Homo sapiens: one gene and its partner. The protein of the gene in region 2 interacts with the protein of the main gene of each other region in a biochemical or structural test. Each region holds a gene or a part of one and is shown on either strand. Other genes may lie near its edges.

Region 1 (3,569 bases), on a different chromosome or scaffold from region 2:
CACCACACTCGCTATAATTAACAGTGATGCAAGAGCCAGATGCAAAATAAGAGGGGCCTCTGGACCTGACTTTTAGGCTGCCCAAACTTTGAGCTGCACTTCAATGTAAAACAGTCTCCATAGCTAGGCTTCCATCTGTTTGAGACGCATTTTAAATGAAGAAATAAAACCCGGAATGCATGCAAGCCCCAAGATAATGGAGCTGAGAGGGGCTGCACCAAATTAATCTCCTTATTTACAATTCAAAAACCATACACCAGAACAGAAAGAGAGTTTATAGTTTATAGATAATATAGATCTTTGCTTTCACACTCAGTTGCCCTGGAAAGGCTGAGCAGTTTTCAATCTGCTGAGCTGATTTATAGCAAGTACAGCTGTAAATTCAATTGTACTAGGTGTTCAGCCTATGCCCTCCCAGTGATGTATCTGAACTTTTCAAAAGGACTAGTTGTCATTAACATCTCTCTATTTTCTTTTGCTGATCTGGGATGATGGGATGCAATGACAATCTGCTTAAAATAAACCTTAAAACCTTAAAACATAATCACCACATCATCCACAAACCCCATTCAACCACAGCATGAGCACAATCACTCTGTAACACAAGGTGAAGATATTCTCTGTTGCTTCTAGGACATATAAGTCCCTCCTGAAGTTTGACAGAGAGAAATAAATTGTGGTCAGGACCTGGATAGGCTCACTAGTAGCCGTCGATGTCGGTGGCGTCTTCTCTTACCTGTTTAAAAGAGGCTCAGTGGCCTTGAGATTTGAACACAATACAGCTGATGGAATCTTGCCACTTTCCTTTTGAATAGACTTTAATTGAGAGCAAAGTGAAAAATGCAGGTTACAATTTTAAGTGTTATCATCAATATCTTGTAAGATCAACACCCAGTGATGCATCTAGTACTTATACAGTCCTAATTTTAGTTGTCAAAGAGCAAATCATTATCAGACATATATTTACACAGTAATTTCAAGCAACGGTAAATAATAAATTCCCTCCCTTAAAAAACAAAACACAACACAACACACACACACACACACACACACACACACACACGACCATCTTTAAACAATGGATTTCCTCACCCAGTAAGTCTCATTTTTTTCACATATACTTGTAGACCCAAAGGTCCTTAAGTTACTTAAAAACAGTCTTATCAGTGGAGATCCTGGACCATCCCCTATTTTCTTTTAAAGTCACTTTCATTTTTACAACTTGAAGCCATATACCAGCATGGTTTTTATACACTAAGGACACTCCCAGTGATGAAAATGAATTCCCCTCCATTTGTGCAAGGAGGTATGTACATCTATAAAGACACATATGATTACCACTCAAAAGAGTCAAAAACATACACAAAAAAATCTCAGATCTTCATAGTTTCTTAAGAGCAGTGTGCCAGTGTTCACATTGAATTAACTGAATGGTAAAATTCTTTTAGATTTCTATACAGAGGTACTGGTTAGTTCTGATTTTTTCTTCAGCTGCTTGAAATGCATGAGCTTTAAAAGTTGCCTGGCAGAACTACATCCTGCTTTCCAGGTTAGCAGCCTGGCTGACCTCGGGAATGTTAGACAAGATTCACCCCCGATGCCTTGCTCTCTGATTTATTTCTTGCTGTTGCTGTTAGTAAATGGAAACCATGACAAAGTTTACATTAGCAGACACATACACATGCCCTGGCCTATAAATATTCCATGATAGAAAATGGTACAATAATTCCATCCCCAGCGAAAACGAGCATAAAAAAAGAAGGGAAGGGTCAGGGGGACATGATCAGCTATGGCTCTTCTTACAGTAGAAAATCCACACCAAATGGCAATGGGCTTTTAACTAACCAGACATTGTTAGCTGCTTCTCCAGGGCCTGTGAGTCAACTAAAAGTAGGCAGGGCAGAGACCAACTCTTCCAGGCACACCTGGTAGTTTCCAGAAGCACCGGTATCTTGTCTTGGAAGTTGGATGAAGAAGATCAACTGAAGTTTCCTTTTTAGTGAGGAGGAGTGGAGAGTCAGACTTGAAAGCAGTTCACACACTGTGCTGCCTGGGACACTGAACGGTCCCCGAGGGAGACCCCTCAAAGCGCCAGCTGGAGTTTGGTCATGTTTCTCTGATGCATGTTGTGATGGCGGACTAATTCATCTGACCGGGCAAACTTTTTCTGACAACTTGGCCACCGACAGCTGAAGGGCTTTTCACCTGTTGACACAATTGCCAGTCAGAGACACTTGCAACAAAGAGACAGGCACAAGTTCAACTATCAAGGCCCGAGTGAAGTCATCACAAGGCACCCACTCTGAATTTCCCATCATTCTGTCCCTGAGCTAACCAACTGAGCTCATTTCCCAGGCAGCCTTGAAACAGCAGCACCTCTTGGGGCTTTAAGGATCGAAATATTGTAAAAAGTTATATTCTTAGGTCAGAAAACTTGGAAAGTGGGAGATAAAGAATGAGTCAAGTTGGGGGAAATGTCTGAGCAATTCATAATTAAGGGGAAAAACGTTTGTTTCAGTCTCTGCTGATAGAATGTTTTGTGAACTGTGTAAATTTCTCCCCCTTGTTGAGTAAGTTGGGAACTGAGATGAACTGGGCTGCAGAAGCCTCTGGGTCATCTACCCTGGGTATTACTGAGTGATCACTGTCCAGGGATCTCAGCTGTGACTGAAGCTTTTAACACTTCTATCTGTGTAGATACCCTGGATGGGCTGGATACTTTAAAATAAATCACTGATACCAGTTTACATGTTATGTGTTGTTTTTTTTTTTCTCTTAAAGTGTTACTGAGAGCATAATCCTGTTATATGGAAGATTCTAGTTGGGGCGTGGTTCTTAGATTTTTAATAAGCTTGCCAAAAGATTGAGGCTTCTCCACCCAAAGAGCCCTCAGACATTCTTTCCAAGCCTCATTCTCATTAGGGAGAATAACTACCATTTATTTGATGCTTAACATATGCCAAGCCTTGTGCTGGGCTTCACACACGCACACACACAACCTCATGTACTCCTTACAACTGCCCGTAGGGGAAGCGTTATTATCCCCACTCTACAGATGAGGTAGGACATCTATTGAGGGCAGATCCAGGCAGAACTCAAATCTCCAGGTCTGTCGAATTCCAGAGCCCGTGCTCTTCCCTGTATCACACCTCCCAGGCCTAGCCATGATGGAAAAGCAGCTGCAGCTCCATCTTAAGGAAGAATGCACAGAAGCTAAACCCTGTGCCACCTGACGGATCTTCTCAGATACTGCTGGTCCCACTTGGCCTTCTCTGAGAACTACTGGTTTGGACAAGCACTGAGAAATGTCCCAGGAGGGCTGGTGTCCCAGGGTCAGACTGGAGGCCAATCAAATGTGGTATTAAACAGTCTGCTGGCAAAACAGGTCATGTCACACTTACTTGGGGAGTGTGACAGCCGTGTCAAAGGGACTATAACACTTTGCCACCGAATTATGAGCTCAGGACTAAGTTAAAGAAGCATCAAAGGCACCTGAGGAAGGGAAGCAAGATCCCATCCTGCCAACCATGGGCCACAGGTGCCTTGGCTCTGTTTTTAAATGCAGCCAA
Region 2 (7,304 bases):
AATTCTTTGTGTACTCTCCCTTCATTTGGTACATATAGAAGTCTTCTTATGTGTTATTAAAGTCTTCTAAGATAGTATTCTGGTCATTGGAGACACCAAAAATCTATGGGCACAGTCCTGTTCTGTTTCTTTTGCCAATAGAATGTTCCTTAAGGTTCAGTCACAGTCCTTTTACTTCCCTTACAGAGATTGTTTAAATTTCCACAAAAGCACGTATTTACTCTTCTTTCACTTGTTACTAAATGACTTCTTCACATTTTACTTTGCTAAAGGCTGGCTTTTATCATTTTCTTTACTTTTTTTTCCCACTAACCCCCCCGCCCTTTTCTTGAGACAGGGCCTCTCTCTCATCCAGGCTGGAGTGCAGTGGTGTAATCACACCTCACTTCAGCTTCCCGAGTAACTGATTTCAGGTGTGCGCCACCAAGCGCAGCTAATTTCTTAATTTTTGTAGAGATGAGGTCTTCCCTATGTTGCCCAGGCTGGTCTTGAACTGCTGTACTTTGGCAATCCTTACTCCTTGGCCTCCCAAAACTGTTGGGATTATAGGTGTGAGCCATCGCACCTGGCCCATTATCATTTTCTCTACCTTCTTAACACATTTTGTCCTTTTGTTTCTATCAGTTTTGTTGTAATTCTTACCACCACTGATACTTCTTTCTCCATAGTTACTAATGAATGTTTTAACAAATTTCCCTTTACACGAGAAATGGATCTTACCTTTAGACTGCTAGCACTTGGGAGATAGAGTGTGAATAGAAGGTGTTGATGGTAATATCTCATAGGATCAGAATGTCTTGAATTCCATTTCTCTTCCGGATTCCTACTCTTGACATCATAGTTGATGTGTGCACATCACAATGTTTGTGCTATTCATGCACATCTGATTCTCCATCTGTCCTATATGCGCTGGCAGTTTTGATCATATTACGCCTGGTCAAGGCCTTCGGTGATACCTCATCACTCTTGTCTCCTCGACCTGGATTTTAAGGTTATTTCAACTATAATGGAACCTAACCTTTTCCAGCTTTTTTTTTTTTTTAAAACAGCTGTCACCTGCATACGCCAGCTGAACAACTTCCTGTTCTTCCAATTATAATACAAGTGAGGTTTTGCAGACAGGGCAGGGCAGCAGGAGCAAAATCACAAGGAAAGGTCAAGATTATATATGGCAGATGAGGATAAAGTTTCAGGTGAGAGTGAAAAAAGATGAGGTCAGCCTGGAATCTTGGGTATTCTAGAAGAGAGGGGACTACTGAAGAATTCTTCAGCAAGAGATGTATGTGATGGATCAGATTTAGATTTACATTTTAGGTAGATCACTCTGACTTGAGTATGAAAGATAGATTTGAGAGGAACAGGACTTTAAGCAGGAAAACCAATTGTGAGGCTGTTAAAATAGTTCAGATGAAATACATGAAGCCACTGGTGGTAGCAGACAGGACAGAATAGGTGTTTTGGAGGCACAATCAATAGGACTTGTTTAGTTTGGATGCTGTTGTGGAAGGAATGAAAAAAATCTAGGGAGGAATCACAGCTTCAGGTTTGTCTTGTTTGACTGAGTAACGATGCTACTAGGATAGATCCTACAAAGATCAAATTTTAAAAGAAGAGTAGAGTGTGGTGTTAGGAAAACAGGAAATCCAGCATTCCCTCCTCCTTCCCCAAAATACAAAGTGATTAAAACAAAGGCATACATAAAGTTCTGTACAATACGAATTTAAAATTGTTCGTTAGATTTGGCAGTTAAGAGGTTGTTGGCCAAGGAAGCCAAAAGATTGGATACCCCTGCTCTAGAGGAACTGTCAAGTGGGAAGTGAGAGAAACTAAATTTAAAGAGTAGAAAGAATGGGAGTGATGTACTATAGGAGTTTGGAGGGAATAGGTTAAGCGAATGGTTGAAAGGATTGGCCCTGAGAAGGAGGGTTTCTTACCCTCTTGAGTGAAAAATAGTGGAAAGGTTTGTATTAGGTACCTGTCCTTTAAAACAGAGCTGCTGCATTTACCCTTGGTGTTTCAAATTAAGCTAAGCTTAGAAAAAATAAAATATACATCCTTAGGAATCTATTTGTGTAGATCTTTTGTTTGTCCAGCATACTAACTCATCCATTTGATCTTTTAATAATAATGCTTTATTTCTTTGTCTACATGCAGTCTTTGCCAAGTACATCAGTAGTCAATTTAGTTAGTTTTGAGCGTAAGGCATAAATTAGCCACGTAGTTACTATATTCTTAACTATATACTGTATTCTTAACTATATTTTATTTTGTTGGTAAGTAAAATCTGTCATTTTTGTTCACCTCAGTGGTATTTCTGTTTTTCATTTAGTCTTTTGCCAATCAACTCAAAATAGATTTAGGAATAAAACTAACTTTGAAAACACTTTACTCAGTGTTCTCTTCCCTAGAACATGGAATTTATTCTAGTCTGATTCACCTCTCTTTTCATGAATGAAAGTGTTGACTATTGGGTCTTTGTAAAGCTAAATAGTAACTGAGTCTCAGTCAGTGCTGTAGACTGTTTTAATCAGTCCTGTCAGTACATGGAGTGCACTGTAAGTCATGGTTTATTCTCGCTCTGTTATCTTAGCAGCTGGCTTCACATTGACTATGCAGTTGTACTAGATTTTTGCTCAGTGAAACAAATATATTCCCAAACCACTTAGTATATTTGTTCCTTTTACTAAATTTATATTAGAAAATTTTAACTGTAATCCTATTTAAGCCTTAGTATGGAGTTAGATCTTGGGCCAGATCTACTTTGAGTATGAAGAAAATGATGAATTTAATGCTAATAACTATATTTCATATTTTAGAAATGTATTTTTAGTGTGCTAGTAAATAGCACAACTGAAGTCGAAATTGAAGGTTTCATATGTAAGTAGAAGGGTTCTGGTATGGTGGAAAAAGCTCTAGACTGGGAATCAGAAGGCCGGAGAACTAGAATTGTAGTCCCGCTATGGCACTGAACTAAACAGTTGGGTTATTTAATCTCAAAATAAGCAGTTTGGATTAGGTGAGTTACTTTCCAGCTTTACAATTCTATGATTCGGATCTATTCAGAAGGGGAAAAATATGAATTATACTTTATTTTGGCTTAAGGTCCTATAGAGTTTTGCTTTTATAAAGCTGTAACAGCAACTCTTGTAGCTATAAGTACTGTATATTTTTTCCTTTAGAAATTCAAATGTGTATTTTAAGTTATAATCTTGCACCTGATGTATTTTTAGGGGACTTTACATAGAATAATTTCCACAGGTAAAAAATTAAGCAAACCAAAGACTTCATTAACTCTTAGGTAATTAATATTTTAAACTTTGCTTTTTTCCACTGGGTTGTCAGCATTTTTAGTAAATATAATGTTGATTTTCGTTTGTTTTTTGGTAATGTTTGGATTGTAAAGTAAAATGTATGTAGCCACTTTAAGTCCCAGATTTGGAGATGTAATCAAATGGCCTCAATTCCTAAGTGAGTAACCTTAAATAGTTATTTTTTTAATTGACAAATAAGTTTTTTACATATTCAAGGACTACTACATAGTGATGTTTCAATACATATAATGTATAGTGATCAGATCGGGGTAATTAGCATATTCATCAAATAGTTTTTAGTCTGTACTTTTTCTAGAAAGTTTTAAGATTTTTCTAGAGAATTTCAGGATCAAAGAGGGGAGGAGCTTAATGAAAGAGTTGGTAAATCAAGTGAATGGAGGGAGTTTTCCCCACCTTCTTATGTATGTTTCCTTTGATTTGGTCGTAATTGTTTCTTTTGCTTTGCACAGACTCAAATCCAGTACCTCAAGCAAGTCCAGCAGCCGAGCGTTGCCCAACTGAGATCAACAATGGTAGACCCAGCGATCAACTTGTTTTTCCTAAAAATGAAAGGTGAACTGGAACAGACTAAAGACAAACTGGAACAAGCCCAAAATGAACTGAGTGCCTGGAAGTTTACGCCTGATAGGTAAACAAATCATACTCCCCAGTCAAGACTTCCCTGACAGTCCCACTACGAGAAAGCTGTGGTGGGACAGCCAAGTACTCGTTTCCACACCAAGACTCAGACTTTTTGAGCCAAAAAAAAGCCACATTCTTACACTGTCCAGCTTGTAATGGTTAATGTAAAACTTACCAGATGAACCTTGTGTTTCAGCTTTTTTCTTTTCCCCTTCCCCTTGCTTCAGAGGCCTGATGGCGTCGGACTATTCCGAAGAAGTGGCCACCTCCGAAAAATTCCCCTTCTAGAACATGTAGACACTTGAGAAATGTTTCTGTTTGAAGAAAATAGAGGGAGAAACAGAAGTCTTAAGTCTGTGGCACACTGTGTCTTCAGACAGTTTGAAGGAATGAAAACCTAGAGATTTTAAATCATGAATTGAACATGTAAAATTCCAGTAAAATGTAAAAACGGAATATGCATCGCTCTTAACCTTGAGCATAGTGACTTAGAGACACTGTGTATCAGTTTTGCCAATAAGACTGTGGACTTCATGATTGTTGTTGAACTTCTGGGTCAAAACTCAAATGAGGTGAATTTTGCCTTTAAAGGGTTTATTTGCTGAGAACCAACTTTCAATAGTCATGAGAGAATCAAATAATAGATGTCCGTACAAGTAGCGCATATATTTAACCATTTAGTTTGGGGCTCTATATTACTTGCTTGAGCCTTAATCAATGTGGTTTTATTCAATGGTTTGTTCTTTGAATGGTTGCAAAAACTGTAGATAATCTTACTGAGGACTGTACAAACATGAAGGTGTGGTATCAAACTTCAGGTTGAAACTGTTTGAAGCATTATAAACATTCATTTCACAACTAGATTGTATAAGGATATTAGCTGTGATGAGACTCACTGCATTATTTTTTTTAGTGAATTTTATGAAATCCCCGTTCCATTCAACAGGCACATGTTTAAAAGAGCTTTGTCGTTGGTGTTAATGGGGGAATGTGTTCCTTCATTGTATTTGGGCCTTTTGTATTGCACTCTTGATATTAAATTAAATGTGCCTTGAAATAGTTGGTTTTTTTTTTTTTTTAAGTTCAAAGAATATTATGATGATTTTGTTGTACTCTTTAACATTTTAATTTGGGGCGGGGAGGGCCTGTTGAGAGCAGATTCATTTTGGAAATACTGTTGCTGTGCTCTTCAAAGTGAAGGAAAAGGCGCTGTGCCTCATTTTTAAAAGACCTACATAAAAGACAAGGAGACTTGACACTTGTTACTTTTATGACACTTTGTCCCAGGGTATTGCAGTAGAAAGTAATGTGGGACAGCTTCACAGGGTGTCTGCCAGAAGATAATGTGTTGGAACTGTGGGCTGGCCTAAGTAAGACATTTTGTGAATTGAAAAAAGGTATAGTGATCATTTCTAGCAAATTCATTTAATCATTTAGATAAATGAGGCATTATTTTCTTCATGCTTCCATCCAATCCTGGAGGTGAATTTTTTCCGTCAGATCATTCTATAAGTCACCAATTCAAATTTTCGCTTGGTGATAATGGAGTCTAAGATGAGTGGAAGATAAATGTTCCAGCTTGTCCCAACGTTTAAGTGCAGTTTTAACAAGGGTGACTTAAGTTCTCTCTTAATCATTCAAATCAATTGTAAGTATCATATGTTTGTGCTTTAGGGAACTGATTGTGGGGCAGAGGGTGGGTTGAAGAAGTGGTTTGTGTGACTTTTCAGCAAGAAATCTGCTTCTAAAATTCTCACTATTTGTGAGGGTTGGAGGGTAAGTAACCAGATCTGTTTGAAATTAGCTTATGTGCTTGCATTAAGGCTTTTGTAAATATTTTATGCCATTTAAGTTCACAGTAGAAATGGCCTAAGTATCTTTTTAGTAGATTTTAGTAGAAGAGTAATCCATAAAATGTATTATTAACATGTACTCAAATTGAGCAGGCATCTTTCTTTGACACTTAGATAACAGTCATGAGTTCTATGGTTTTTTTCTTGTCATTGTTAAAATTTTCTCTTTTAATAAGATAATACATGCTTATGTATAAAATTGAAATACTGTAGAGAAAGGGGGAGATGAAAAGTGAGTGTCACTCCCGGATGTGACCTTGACATCCTCATTCTCTTCTCCAAGAGCAGTAACTGCTATTACTTTTTCTTGGGTATCATCAAGATAATTTCTATGCATATACAGTTATTTTATGTATATTGTTTTAAACAAATGTGATCATACCATAAACACAGATGAGTTGCACCTTGTTTTTTTTTACTTGGTCTCTTTGGCATTTTTCCATTTTTTAATGTATCTAGACAACTACATTTTTAATGCTTACATAGTATATTTCCGTTATATTAAGGAATCATAATTTATTTGAATCACTTATAAATGGATTTTTTTCTATAAAATTGGCTGTAAGCCAGAGTATATCAGGTACTATAAATACATCACTAATTTGAAACAAATAATGGCTCAGGCAATCCCGTCTGGAATATTTCCAGTGGTGGAATGGGTTTTGCTTTGGGTTGCGTGCACGCGCACGCACGTGTGTGTCTTCGCTTTACTGTTTTTCTGTTCTAATTTTGAGGAAGAAAGATTCCCAGAAATAACCTGTCCAGTTCAGTTAAAATATTTCATTCATGTGAGAATGCACACATTTTAGAGTGTTTAGAGGTATATCTTTCAAAGTGCTTTCTATTATGTTTGTGGGTTAATCGATTTTAGGAATGGGTTGATTTTTTTGTTTGTAATTTTAAAAAATTATTTCAAAAACAACTACTTGTAATTAAATTATTTTTTCAAAACTGTGATTTTGTTAAAATTTATTTTACTAATCACTAGTTTTAAACGTGATATGACTATCTTAGCTTAGACATTTATTTATTAAAAGGTATGACTTTTTAAACGAAACCTTTTTTGCATTAGAATTTGTGACATTTTTATATGGGGTTAAGTCAGGTCACAGATTAATGTATCTTACAGTTGTCTTTTTCTACTCTTTAAAATTCATATAGTAAGAAGGTTAGTTGTAAACACCAATGAAATATATATACTTTGCAAGAAGACAGTTTTGAGAGCATAGGCAGTAAAGTGGAAGGAATTCCATTGTTTTTGACAATCTTGCATATCTCTCATTTTCCCATTGTTTAATTTCTAAGTGGATGTTCAGTGGAGGCTAACGCCTGAGAGTGCTGATGGGAAATGGTGGAAATCTGGAGCTACAGTAGCAGTGAACAAGAACACCAGCTAATAAAGTTATCATATCAAAGAATAAAGCCTTTACCACATGCTCACTGGTGGCTTTCACCCTCGGGCTCCTCTGAGCAGTAGTAACCCAGGTTGAACTCTTCA

The links.
Region 1: the proteins of WTAP (region 2) and WT1 form a complex in vitro, tested with the Homo sapiens proteins (one study listed by BioGRID).

What each region holds. Positions count from the first base shown.
Region 1 is NC_000011.10:32,386,975-32,390,543, forward strand, and holds the end of WT1 (Wilms tumor protein), read right to left. Parts: intron 2,206-3,569; coding exon 2,084-2,205; 3' UTR 801-2,083; downstream 1-800. UniProt on the Homo sapiens protein: Transcription factor that plays an important role in cellular development and cell survival. Recognizes and binds to the DNA sequence 5'-GCG(T/G)GGGCG-3'. Regulates the expression of numerous target genes, including EPO.
Region 2 is NC_000006.12:159,744,410-159,751,713, forward strand, and holds part of WTAP (pre-mRNA-splicing regulator WTAP), read left to right. Parts: intron 1-3,781; coding exon 3,782-3,960; coding exon of another isoform or gene 3,961-3,964; exon of another isoform or gene 3,965-4,180; coding exon of another isoform or gene 4,181-4,241; exon of another isoform or gene 4,242-5,010; intron 5,011-7,304. UniProt on the Homo sapiens protein: Associated component of the WMM complex, a complex that mediates N6-methyladenosine (m6A) methylation of RNAs, a modification that plays a role in the efficiency of mRNA splicing and RNA processing.